Homo sapiens: one gene and its partners. The protein of the gene in region 1 purifies or fractionates together with the protein of each later gene. This does not show direct contact. Each region holds a gene or a part of one and is shown on either strand. Other genes may lie near its edges.

Region 1 (2,937 bases):
AAAAATGTGTGGAGACAGGGGCCTTGCTATGTTGCCCAGGCTGGTCTCAAACTCCTGGCCTCCAGCATTCCTCCTGCCTTGGCCTCCCAGAGTGCTGAGATTACAGGCATGAGCTCCTGTGCTTGGCTGGAAGAAGTTATTTTAAAGGAGGAATCAGTATATCTTGCTAATGACTAGAAATAGGTAATAGAGGAAATATTTCTGTAGCCAGAACTCTAAAGCCTGGAAGAGTGATGATGCCTTAAGAAACATGTCCCTGCGTGGTGGCTCACGCCTTTAATCCCAGCACTTTGGGAGGCTGAGGTGGGTGGATCACTTGAGGTTGGGAGTTCGAGAGCACCCTAGCCAACATGGTGAAACCTCATCTCTACAAAAAATTAGCCTGGCATGGAAGCACATGCATGTAATCCCAGCTTCTTGGGAGGTTGAGGCAGGAGAATTGCTTGAACCCAGGAGGCAGAGGTTGCAGTGAGCCAAGATTGCACCACTGTACTCCAGCCTGGGTGATAGAGTGAGACTCTGTCTCAAAAAACAAACAAACAAACAGGAAATCAAAAAAAGAAGTGGATTGGGAAGGAGGTGGATAAGGATAAGGTGAAATTTGATGGCCCAACTTTAGACATTGAGTTTGATATAAAATAGCAGTTAATATATATTGCTAGTTCAGCAAAAGGAACTAAATCTAGTGGAGGCCCATATCAAGGAAGAGGGAAGAGGAAGTTGAGACAGTCACCAGAAAAGAGGAAGCCCAAGCCACTGTCCCATCACTTACTCTAGGGGTCAACAGAGGGAGGTATTCAAGGACAAAGGGAATGTTTATGTTTGAGATTCTGCAAACAGGGCAGCAAGTGTGAAGACAGAAAAAGATGGAGCCATTAACAGGTAAGTGGTGGGCAGGCATTCATTTTGGAGAATGTGGCTTTATCAAATAGGCAGGGACATGGGAGAAATCCAGTTTTATGGGGTTAGAAAAGCATGGTCAATAAAGAGATGGATGGCCAGGCACGGTGGCTCACGTCTGTAATCCCAGCATTTTGGGAGGCTGAGGCGGGCAGATCATTTGAGGTCAAGAGTTTGAGACCAGCTGATTAATATGGTAAAACCCCGTCTCTACTAAAAATATAAAAAATTAGCTAGATGTGGTGGTGCTGGTACGTGCCTGTAATCTCAGCTATTTGGGAGGCTGAGGCAGGAGAATCACTTGAACCCGAGAGGCCGAGATTGCACCACTGCACTACAGCCTGGGTGACAGAACGAGATTCCGTCTCAAAAAAGAAAAAAAAAAAAAAGATGGATAAGTTACTGCTCATCCGGGGAAGGCCAGTATTATGGGAAACAGGATGGCATCCGGAGGGTGACAACATTATAGGGGGAGATTTCAGGTTGTTTTTTTCCAAAGCTGAGGGTACTGGCAAGCCAAGGGGGAGAGGGTCTAAGTGTGAGAACCAAGGGGACTGTGCCTGGAATTCCTTCCTGAGCCTGTGCCGTAATGCCCGCCCCTCTCCCTCCTCCGTCTGCATGCAGTCATCTGGGGACCTGGAGAATGATGAGCAGGCAGCCAGTGCCATCTCTGAGCTGGTCAGCACAGCCTGCGGTTTCCGGCTGCACCGCGGCATGAATGTGCCCTTCAAGCGCCTGTCTGGTGAGCCCCTGCCCCTGCCCTTGGTGGTGGTACTGGGAGCGGGGGGCTACTTCCAGGGGCTTCTCGGCTTCTCTTCTTCCAGCCTCCTACCATCTCCTGGGGTCTCTGGTCTGGCCACTTTCCTCCCTTTGGGACTCCCTGGTATCAGAATTGTGAATGAGAAGGCAAGAGAAAGGAGATCTAGCAGAGGCCACTCATCTTCAAATCTCTGAGCCTGGAACTATAGAACTTCTTTGGCTTTGATCCCAGCCAATGTGCGTGTGGCCCCGCCCCATGGAGTCTGTTGCACCCACTAACTCTGTGCTCCCTTCCCTCTCCTGGGGCGGGGGAAGGTGTGTCTCTCCTCCAGTGGTCTTTGGAGAACACACACTGCTGGTGACGGTGTCAGGACAGAGGGTGTTTGTGGTGAAGAGGCAGAACCGAGGTCGGGAGCCCATTGATGTCTGAGCCTGCCGGAGGGCGAGGGTCGGAGAAGCGGATTGGGTCCTGGGCCTCTGTGATGAGGCAGGCACACCTGTCGGTCTTGGCTTGCTGCTAGAACTAGGGCCTTCTGCTCGCCCACCTCCCACCCCTACCTGGACGGGCCCAGGCTTGGGGACTCTGAGCTGTGTTAAGGAGAACAAGGGCAAGGAGACCTCCCTTTGTGCTCCCTCACTCCCTAATAAACATGAGTCTGATGTTCTCCAGCCCAGGGACATGTGTGTTTAGTGTTGGAATGGTTACACCCCATGTCTGTCTTCCACCTTCTGGGGAGAAAGTCATGCACCTTAGCCCAAGTTGGGTGCGGCAGGGCCACCTCTGTGTGCTATAAAACTGGGAAGCAGAAAAAGCTGGAGGGGAAGGGAGTCACCCTGAGCCCTGGCGACCTCTGCTCTTCCCATCAGTACACAAACTAGTCATCCTTCTCCCTCCTGAACAGGCATTTAATAGTCTTATTTCAGTTGGAAGCAATAGTTGGAAAATAAGTTACAGGAACAGACCAAAAAAAAAAAAATTAAAGTGCTTCAGGCTGCAAACGTAAACATAAGGGGCAGGAGGCTACCTGGCCCTGTCCCCAACCCCTGAGACAGGAAGGTCACTGTCAGGGGCCCTTAGCCATCACCACCCTCTAATCTCAGCCCTGCGGGAGGGAGGGAGGGAATGTCAGAGGTGGGAAAGAACTCAACGGGAATGAGGAAGAGACTTTGTAAACTCAGAACCAGGGTAAAGGGCCGGGGACAAGGGAGCTCTGGGAACCCTTGCCCTGGCCTAGGGGTGGGGCCAGCCCCCCCCACAGGAACTCGGGGAATACTGGT
Region 2 (4,117 bases), on another chromosome or scaffold:
TTCTAAAATGAGAAATAAAGGGTACAAAATTTAACTGTGACTTGCCCAAAGTCAGCAGTGCTAGACAGTTAGGAAAGGAATTAGACATCTACAAGTTATTGGTACACAAGGCCCATCTCTGCGACACTGGAGTTGCAAAGCTGTCTATCCACCCTACCACATCAAGCCAGCTATGTTTAGTAAGTCCAGGAAAAAAACCTGTTCTCAACCCCCGAATGACTGGCCTATTCCCGAGGCTTCAGCCTCCTCACTCTTTTTTTTTTTTTTTTAAGTCAAGGCGGCTGGGCACGGTGGCTCACGCCTGTAATCCCAGCACTTTGGGAGGCCAAGCCAGGTGGATCACTTGAGGTCAGGAGTTCGAGATCAGCCTGGCCAACATGGTGAAACCCTATCTCTACTAAAAATACAAAAATTATCCAGGCGTGGTGGCATGTCCCTGTAATCCCAGCTACTTGGGAGGCTGAGGCAGGAAAATTGCTTGAATCCGGGAGGCGGAGGTTGCAGTGAGCCAAGATCATGCCACAGCACTCCAGCCTAGGTGACAGTGAGACTGTCTCAAAAAAAAAAAAAAAAAAAGAGTCAAGTCTCACTACATCGCCCAGGCTGGATTTAAACTCCTGGGCTCCAGCAATCCTCCCACCTGGGCCTGAGTAGCTAGGACTACAGCCCCCTCACTCTTAAAATTATAGCATTAGTCCAGGGCAAAAATAGCCAGTAAGTCCATTCTAGGCTGAGGCAAAAATCAGAAATTTGGAGGACAAAGAGGGAGATCAATTCAGGTTCCTTGGGAGAAAGTAATCCATTTGGAGGGAAGTGATTCAAATTATAAAGGACTCCCTAGACCAAGAAATCATCCTCTCCCCCAAATATCTTCCAGACTGGGACAAGAATGAATCTTTAAAGTGTTTTATGCTCTAGAAGGTAATATTCCCAGGCTCATTATAGTCATATCTCAAAGGTTAATCCAGGGATGCCATAGAACTGTTCTGCCTCCTAGAAGCTCGTCTCCGGAGGCTTGGCATTCACTCTTCTAGAAAAATCTCTGCTGCTTTTATTTCTTTTCAAGAAATATTTATTTACCTGTTTTGGTAATTTACCTAACATTTTACAAAAGCCATGCCAGAAATCTTTCCTGCTATAAATTGTGATTCCTCCTTCCCCAGATACCAGAGGAAAGGGGACTTCAAAACACTCTAGCTAACCTCTACTACTTTATCTGTAAAATGGGATTACTGCAAAAATTATATGTAAATGTATGTAAAGTACCGGGCACAGGGGAATAGGCAAATTCTAACATCGGAAATGCTCGAATGCTGTTGGTTCATGGGCAAGAAAACAAATTAAAAAGATGCCACACCGCTTCCCCCTAAAATATGTTTCTGCCCTGCCATAGAGGCAAGAATGTCAAAGGTGGCAATTATTATATTTCTTATAACAGATATGACACTCTGGCCCTTCCAAGGAAATAGAAAAACGTAGCAAAGCTAGTAGATGCTGCTCACCATTCAAAGCTGCCCCAATCCAGTCCCCAGAATGTAGGTCTGAACTAGTCTTGAAAGTCACACCTTAAAGTGAAACACCCTTAGATCTATTAGCTTGCCTATTTCTGAATTACAGCTCCTATCAAGAACAGAGAACTTCTAAAATCGGCGACTCTTTTTAGGCCCCAGATTTAACCAATTTGCGTTAGCAACCCCGGAGCTTAACCAAAGCACTCCCAGCTGTCCTAGCGTGTGGGTAACAAAAAAAGCAGCAAATGGTCCTCAATTAAACATCAGCTGCTTTATCTATTTATTGAACACTCACTGTATTGCAAACACAATAATCCTCCCATTCTTGTCTCAAACGCTTAGAGAAGTCTAAAAATCATGGACAGAGAACAACAATGGAAAACACCAGTGCCTGCTGTCTGGCCAACCTCTACAAGATTAGAAAACGGACCAAGACACCTTCTGAGAAGAAAAAGCTGTTTCTGGAGACCTTTGCACTAAAGGGTTCAAAGCAAGTGGACACCTATCACATATCCCTTCAGAAAAGGAACCTCTAACACCCGTTTTTAAGAAACAGACTGTTCTTAGAGGTCCTATAATCCATCCACTGTGTGAGCCAAATCTCACTACATCAGCCATGAGCACTAGAGCCAAAAATTAATTAGCTCGTCTTTTAAACAGGAGGCTGTAGCTGGGAGAAACGGCTGTTTTGAAAATAAATAAGGGCACTGGCGCCCACGCTGGCTTAGCTTGCAGTCACACGCACTTCCATCAGGGGAATCGAGGCCAGGACAGATGGTGACTTTTTTTTTTTCCTACTAGCACGGTGAAGGCTTTTTCTGTGCGTTCCCGTCCGCAGTCCCTGACCCTAGTCTGGGAGGCAGCCCGCTCTGCAAGGGGACAGGGCGGGCTGGAGGAGGGTGGGAGGTTAGGACACCGACCTGAGGAGTTCAGATCGTTGGGTCGGCTCTCGGCCTCGGAGCTCTGCTCACTGCCCATGGTGCCGACAGCGGTGGCAGCAGAAGAACGGCGGGCCGGGCGGTCACCGCTCCGGCGGCGGGCGACAGGGCAGGGGCCAGGGACCGGGACGGGGAGGCAAAGCAGAGTCTGGGCGCCGCAGCGAGGCTAATGTGTGGGGCTGACGCGTCCAGCCCACGCAGGGGCCTGGGCGGCGGGAGAAGGAGAGGCCCTATTTGGGGAACAGAAACGCAAGGAGGCGCGGCGCGAACGCACGCGGCTAGCCCTCCTTCTTTCCGGGAGCCCTAAGAGAACCGGCAGATGACACTGGCTTTGCCGCACCTGCGGCCGGCGGGCGGCGCCGCTTTCACTCACTGGTTCACGCTCCGCAAGCTCGCTCCTTCCGGGACGCAGATGGGCGGTGCCGGCTACGCAAGACCTTCAGTTCCGGATTAGGAGGCCCCGCCCCCCGGCCCGAGGGAGGGGCGGAGAGACCCGCTCCTGCGACTTAGGGCGATGCCACCTTAAAGGGCTTGACCTCCTCGAAGCCAGAACTGCGGAAGAGGGTAAGCCCTTTCCTGTTGTAAGGATGCGTCACCTTTAAAACACCACCCACACTATTAAGCTCTTCAATACCCACATGTGAGAACAACTTTACAAAATAGGTATTTTTAACCCTGTTTTACAGATGGAGAAAGAAACGCTAGATAGACCCAGGATTCGAACCCACAACAGCTTGGATGCAAAGCTCATTTTGAATTCTGAAGAGCTGGGAGTTTAGCAGTGGACGACCAAACAAAAAAATACCAGAAGACGGTGAAAGCAGCAGCTGGAAATGAGAGAAAAATTAAGAAATAGAAAATGCTGTTTCATGTATTAGGGAGTGCACATCTTTAAAGAGAAGTGAAGAACCTTTTTGGCTAGGCGCTTTCTGGGGACCTTGGCAGTTATCAACAAGTCACTCTGAAACTAACAGAAGGTGAGGAGGGAGTAATCCAGAAAGGAAACTGCCATTTTTGCTAGGGCAAGAAAGTAGACCTAGCAATGCAATGCCATCAAGGAGTTAGCTGGCTCTAGCGTTCTCCGAACTTTGCAACTCATTTTATATTACATTGTCTGCGTCAAGAAATTTCAAGTAAATGCCTTGAGATTTTATATGTATAAAATGTAGTCTCTGGCCAGGCGGGGTGGCTCACGCCTGTAATCCCAGCACTTTGGGAGGCTGAGGCGAGTAGATCACGATGTCAGGAGATCAAGACCATCCTGGCTAACATGGTGAAACCCCGTCTCTACTAAAAAATACAAAAAATTAGCCGGGCATGATGGTGGGCGCCTGTAGTCCCAGCTACTCGGGAGGCTGAGACAGGAGAATGGTGTGAACCCGGGAGGCAGAGCTTGCAGTGAGCCGAGATCGCGCCACTGCACTCCAGCCTGGGCGACAGAGCGAGACTCCGTCTCAAAAAAAAAAAAAAAAAAAAAAGTCTCAGAAGAAGTGTCAAGTTGACTAAATGATTTTTAAGTCCCTTCCACTCTACTATATCACAATAATTTCCCCTATTTTACCTTATTTAATTTTCACAACAACCCTGCAGCCTGTAAGTAGGTGACTCCTCCATGGTCAGCAGGTGGTCAGTGGTCGAACTATTTAGGACTATCTGATGCTCTTTCCT
Region 3 (3,676 bases), on another chromosome or scaffold:
AGACTTTGGATTCCAGGTCACAGTTTGCTTTTTAGACAAGGTAAAGCAAAGAAAGCCACATTGTGCCATCTTCAGCTCCAGTGGCTTTAGCAGTGACTGTTTGACATAAAACATGTAAGAATTGCTTGTTGGGAAGAGTGCTTTAGGGACCCACTGTTTTCATTTCTTCTTGGAGTTTACCTTGTTTCAGATGCAGCCATGGGTAGGTCAGAGATGGATTGTTGGTGCAATAAACCCAAGAATCAATGTAGCCTCTTAATCCCATCAAGATGTAGTTTGTAGCAGCAAAGTGTACAGTCTGAAACCGTATGTTTTATCCTTATATTTTAGAGCTTTCAGCAGCCTTTTTAAGAGAGGCCACTTACCAAAGTTATTTCTATAAGCTCAAGAGTGTTTCGGTTGGTAAGTTCTTCCAGCTGAAGCCACTTTTTCCTTATAGTTAATACAAATGACTATTTTTACTTTAAAAGGCACAGCTGTCCTGGTGGGAAATGAAACCTGCAGCAGTTCAGGATGACTAATGAAAGCAATTAGCTTGAACATTTAGAAAAAATTCATATATGATCTAAATTTTTATATTATCATTTCTGTGCCTTCTAATTCCTGCATCCTTTTCAAAACATCTTTCCAGACATTAACTTACACATTGTATAAAACCGACCAAAATGATTTCCTAAAGTTCATGCAAAAAAAAAAAAAAAACAACCTAATTTTCTGTTAATATAAAAGAAACTTCAGTTTACTGACCGTGAAACAGACTATGTACTGACATCCAGGGTAAAGTAAAAGACTTTTAAATATTGGTCATTAAAGGACAGGAGCTAAGCTAGCAAAGCAAAACATCTTTAGCACTTTGCAGATCTCAAGCAGTTAACCAGGCTCTGATTCCCTTCCACTGTTTTATGAATTAATTCCAGTTCTTTTCATGTATCTTTGAACCTAAGATTATGAAGTAATTTCCCTATTAGGGACTAGAATGACTTCAGTTTTTTCATTTGATAAAAATCAGAACTGCTACCTTTCCCTTTTTTAATGATGCAAAATGTAGATGAGTGCATTAAGTTTTGTAAGATCTTTATCATTTTATGTCATTCATTGAAAATTGAAATGTTCATTCTTTTTAATGTTTTCCTATTTCCTTTTGCCTAGCATTTGACTTTGGTGTTTTAAGTTCTGTAGTTCCATGACATCATTGTTTGCTGTTGTGTTACAGAGAGAGAAGGAACCTCACCTGTGGCTCAGCTCACCCCACATCCGTTTCTCATTACGTGTAAATAAACTGTCAGAGCTGATGTTACAGCTTTTACAGTTTAAAGCATTCCCCTCGTCTCTAGTTCCTTTTTTCTTGTTTACATGTTTTGGGCACTTTCCCTCATTCACCACCTTCCAGGGTTTCATAGAAAATAACTTGTTACAAAATCAGTTCAATTCTAATGTGGACATAGTGGCATGTTCATAATTAGACCCATATAGGGGACACTGAGCTTTAAATCGTTGATTCTAAACTCTATACATTAAAAAAATTCAGCCCAGGCCCCTCAAAGCCTGAGAAAATTTAATTTGCTCTTAATTTAATGTTCCAAAACTCACTCTTGGAAAAATGCCTGTTGGAAAACTACAGGTGGGTCACATGTGGGGGCTGTCTCCGTGACACTCAGGATTCCAGTCAGAACCTAATCCTCATATCTATTGCCTACAAAAATAGACCAAGAATGTTGCTGCTCTTTTATAATCCTTTAAATATTTAACATTCAAGTTTTCTTTGTCTTAAATTCAGCCTCTTCCTAAAAGCAAAAAAGAAAAAAAAAACCTCACAGAATTGTGTTGAGATCCACCGCTCACACGCCGTACACCACCCAGTGGCTTCATTCTGGCTTAGCCGCAGAGGCAAGAAAGGGACCCCACTTGCTCCCATGCCCACCTCAAGAAAAAACATAAAACAATTTTTTTTAAAAAAGAAAAGAAATCTACCTCAGTTGACAGGATTCCACCTTTAGGGTTTCTTCAACTTTTAAGTCTTACCTGTTGAGTGTAACTTTTGTAGCATCTTGCTTTTCCAAGCAAGCTAGTGAGGCATGACAGAGCAGAAGTCTGTAAATGTCCCTGTGATGGACCTCTTTCTAGCATGTTGCAGTTTTATTTTTAATAAATTGGTAAGTGAAATGAATGTAAAGGTAATTGTGTACGTTTTAGACATGACAATGAAAATTTAAAATGTAGCTTCCATACTTGTGCATAATTCCAAAGTATTTTATTTTTTATCAATCAGTGTTAAATAGCTTTTTGTACAGGCTTCAATCCATTTTTCGAAGTGTGCTGTTTTTTAATGAAAGTAACTATAATCTTTTCACATCCCATGGAACTGCCGTTTACACATTGCAACTTTTTAAACTTAACCATATTTTTCAAAATTAACGTTTTTGGAGGGAGAAAAATCCCCGCTTGCTAAATGATACTAAACCGTTGTTTGGGCTCTTATAATTAGGTCCTGAGATTTTATAAAAATTTAGTCTGTAGCTTTTTAGGTTCTTCACTAGAGTTGGTTGTACATAAAAATAATAAAGAATATAAAGTATCCCAAAATTCTTTTAAAGTCTGGATTTTTCCGCTAATATGTACTTTAGAGAATATTTTGTTCATGCATACTTCCACGTTAAATTGAAAATGTCTTCAGCTTCTCTTGGTAAATGTGAACCATTTGTTTTTTATTGTGCTTGGGGGAGAGGGTATTTTAATATAATTTTTGCCTAAATCAAGAAGTCCCCTCTGAATGTTAATTTTTAAATGTCAAAATATGATGAACGATATATCTTGAAAGTGAGATTGCAATATGCTTAAACTTAAGTGGTATTTCAAAAACGAGAAAATTCTGGAATTTGTCATTTGAAGCTCCATAAGAGAAATTGATAGGACTTCGTTTTTGATCAGTCTGAATAGATACCAATGTCATTGTGTGGGAATTTTTTTTAACTTGTTTATGTATTATTTTGATCCATTTTTCTGTGGCATTTGGTGCAATAAAACTTTTGAATTTATCTTGAACATTTTCCTGGTGCTGCATGCGATTTGTTATATTTAATAAAATGTAGAGGTCTCATTTCTAATAATTCGTGCTGAAAACAAGCTGATTATTTATCTCAGTGGTTTTTAACCGGGGTGTTTTGGAAATGCAGGGACATTTTTGGTTAGCATAATGCCAGGTTAGGGTTACTGGCACAGAGAGGCTGGGGGCTCAGATGATAGGCGAGAGGTCCTGCACCATGTGAGACAGCCCCATGGGATGAGGACTTGTCCCACCCACCTCCTGCGTAACCCTTAAATGTCCTGCTGGACATTTATATGGCTAAAAAAGCCTGTTTATAATTAAGCAGATAATTCTGCTATACATAAAAAACACAATGTATTTTTACATGATTTTTGTATATAATGCATTCTCCAGGAATGCAATTGTTGTATAAATTGAGGGAAGATTTTTACTTTGTAAGATTTAGAATTTTAGCAAGAAGTGGTCACTTGGTCTTTACCAAGAATTGATATACTTTTGGAAAACTGCGTTTCCAATGGTAACATAGTTTGGTAGCTATGGTACCCATGGAATTTGAGTCACCAATACAGGACATCTCTGTCAGTCTTCATTTGTAGCCCCTGCATTCATGAAGACTCTGTATATAGATGC

What was found.
Region 2: the proteins of LAMTOR4 (region 1) and BORCS5 purify together in Homo sapiens (affinity purification with mass spectrometry; one large-scale study listed by BioGRID and IntAct). This does not show direct contact.
Region 3: the proteins of LAMTOR4 (region 1) and FNIP2 purify together in Homo sapiens (affinity purification with mass spectrometry; one large-scale study listed by BioGRID and IntAct). This does not show direct contact.

Annotation. Positions count from the first base shown.
Region 1 is NC_000007.14:100,151,876-100,154,812, forward strand, and holds the end of LAMTOR4 (ragulator complex protein LAMTOR4), read left to right. Parts: intron 1-840; exon of another isoform or gene 841-882; intron 883-1,524; coding exon 1,525-1,642; intron 1,643-1,974; coding exon of another isoform or gene 1,975-1,991; coding exon 1,992-2,089; 3' UTR 2,090-2,328; downstream 2,329-2,937. UniProt on the Homo sapiens protein: As part of the Ragulator complex it is involved in amino acid sensing and activation of mTORC1, a signaling complex promoting cell growth in response to growth factors, energy levels, and amino acids.
Region 2 is NC_000012.12:12,355,824-12,359,940, reverse strand, and holds the start of BORCS5 (BLOC-1-related complex subunit 5), read right to left. Parts: upstream 2,864-4,117; 5' UTR 2,824-2,863; coding exon of another isoform or gene 2,823-2,823; 5' UTR 2,490-2,822; coding exon 2,432-2,489; exon of another isoform or gene 1,503-2,431; intron 1-1,502.
Region 3 is NC_000004.12:158,905,009-158,908,684, forward strand, and holds the end of FNIP2 (folliculin-interacting protein 2), read left to right. Parts: 3' UTR 1-3,042; downstream 3,043-3,676.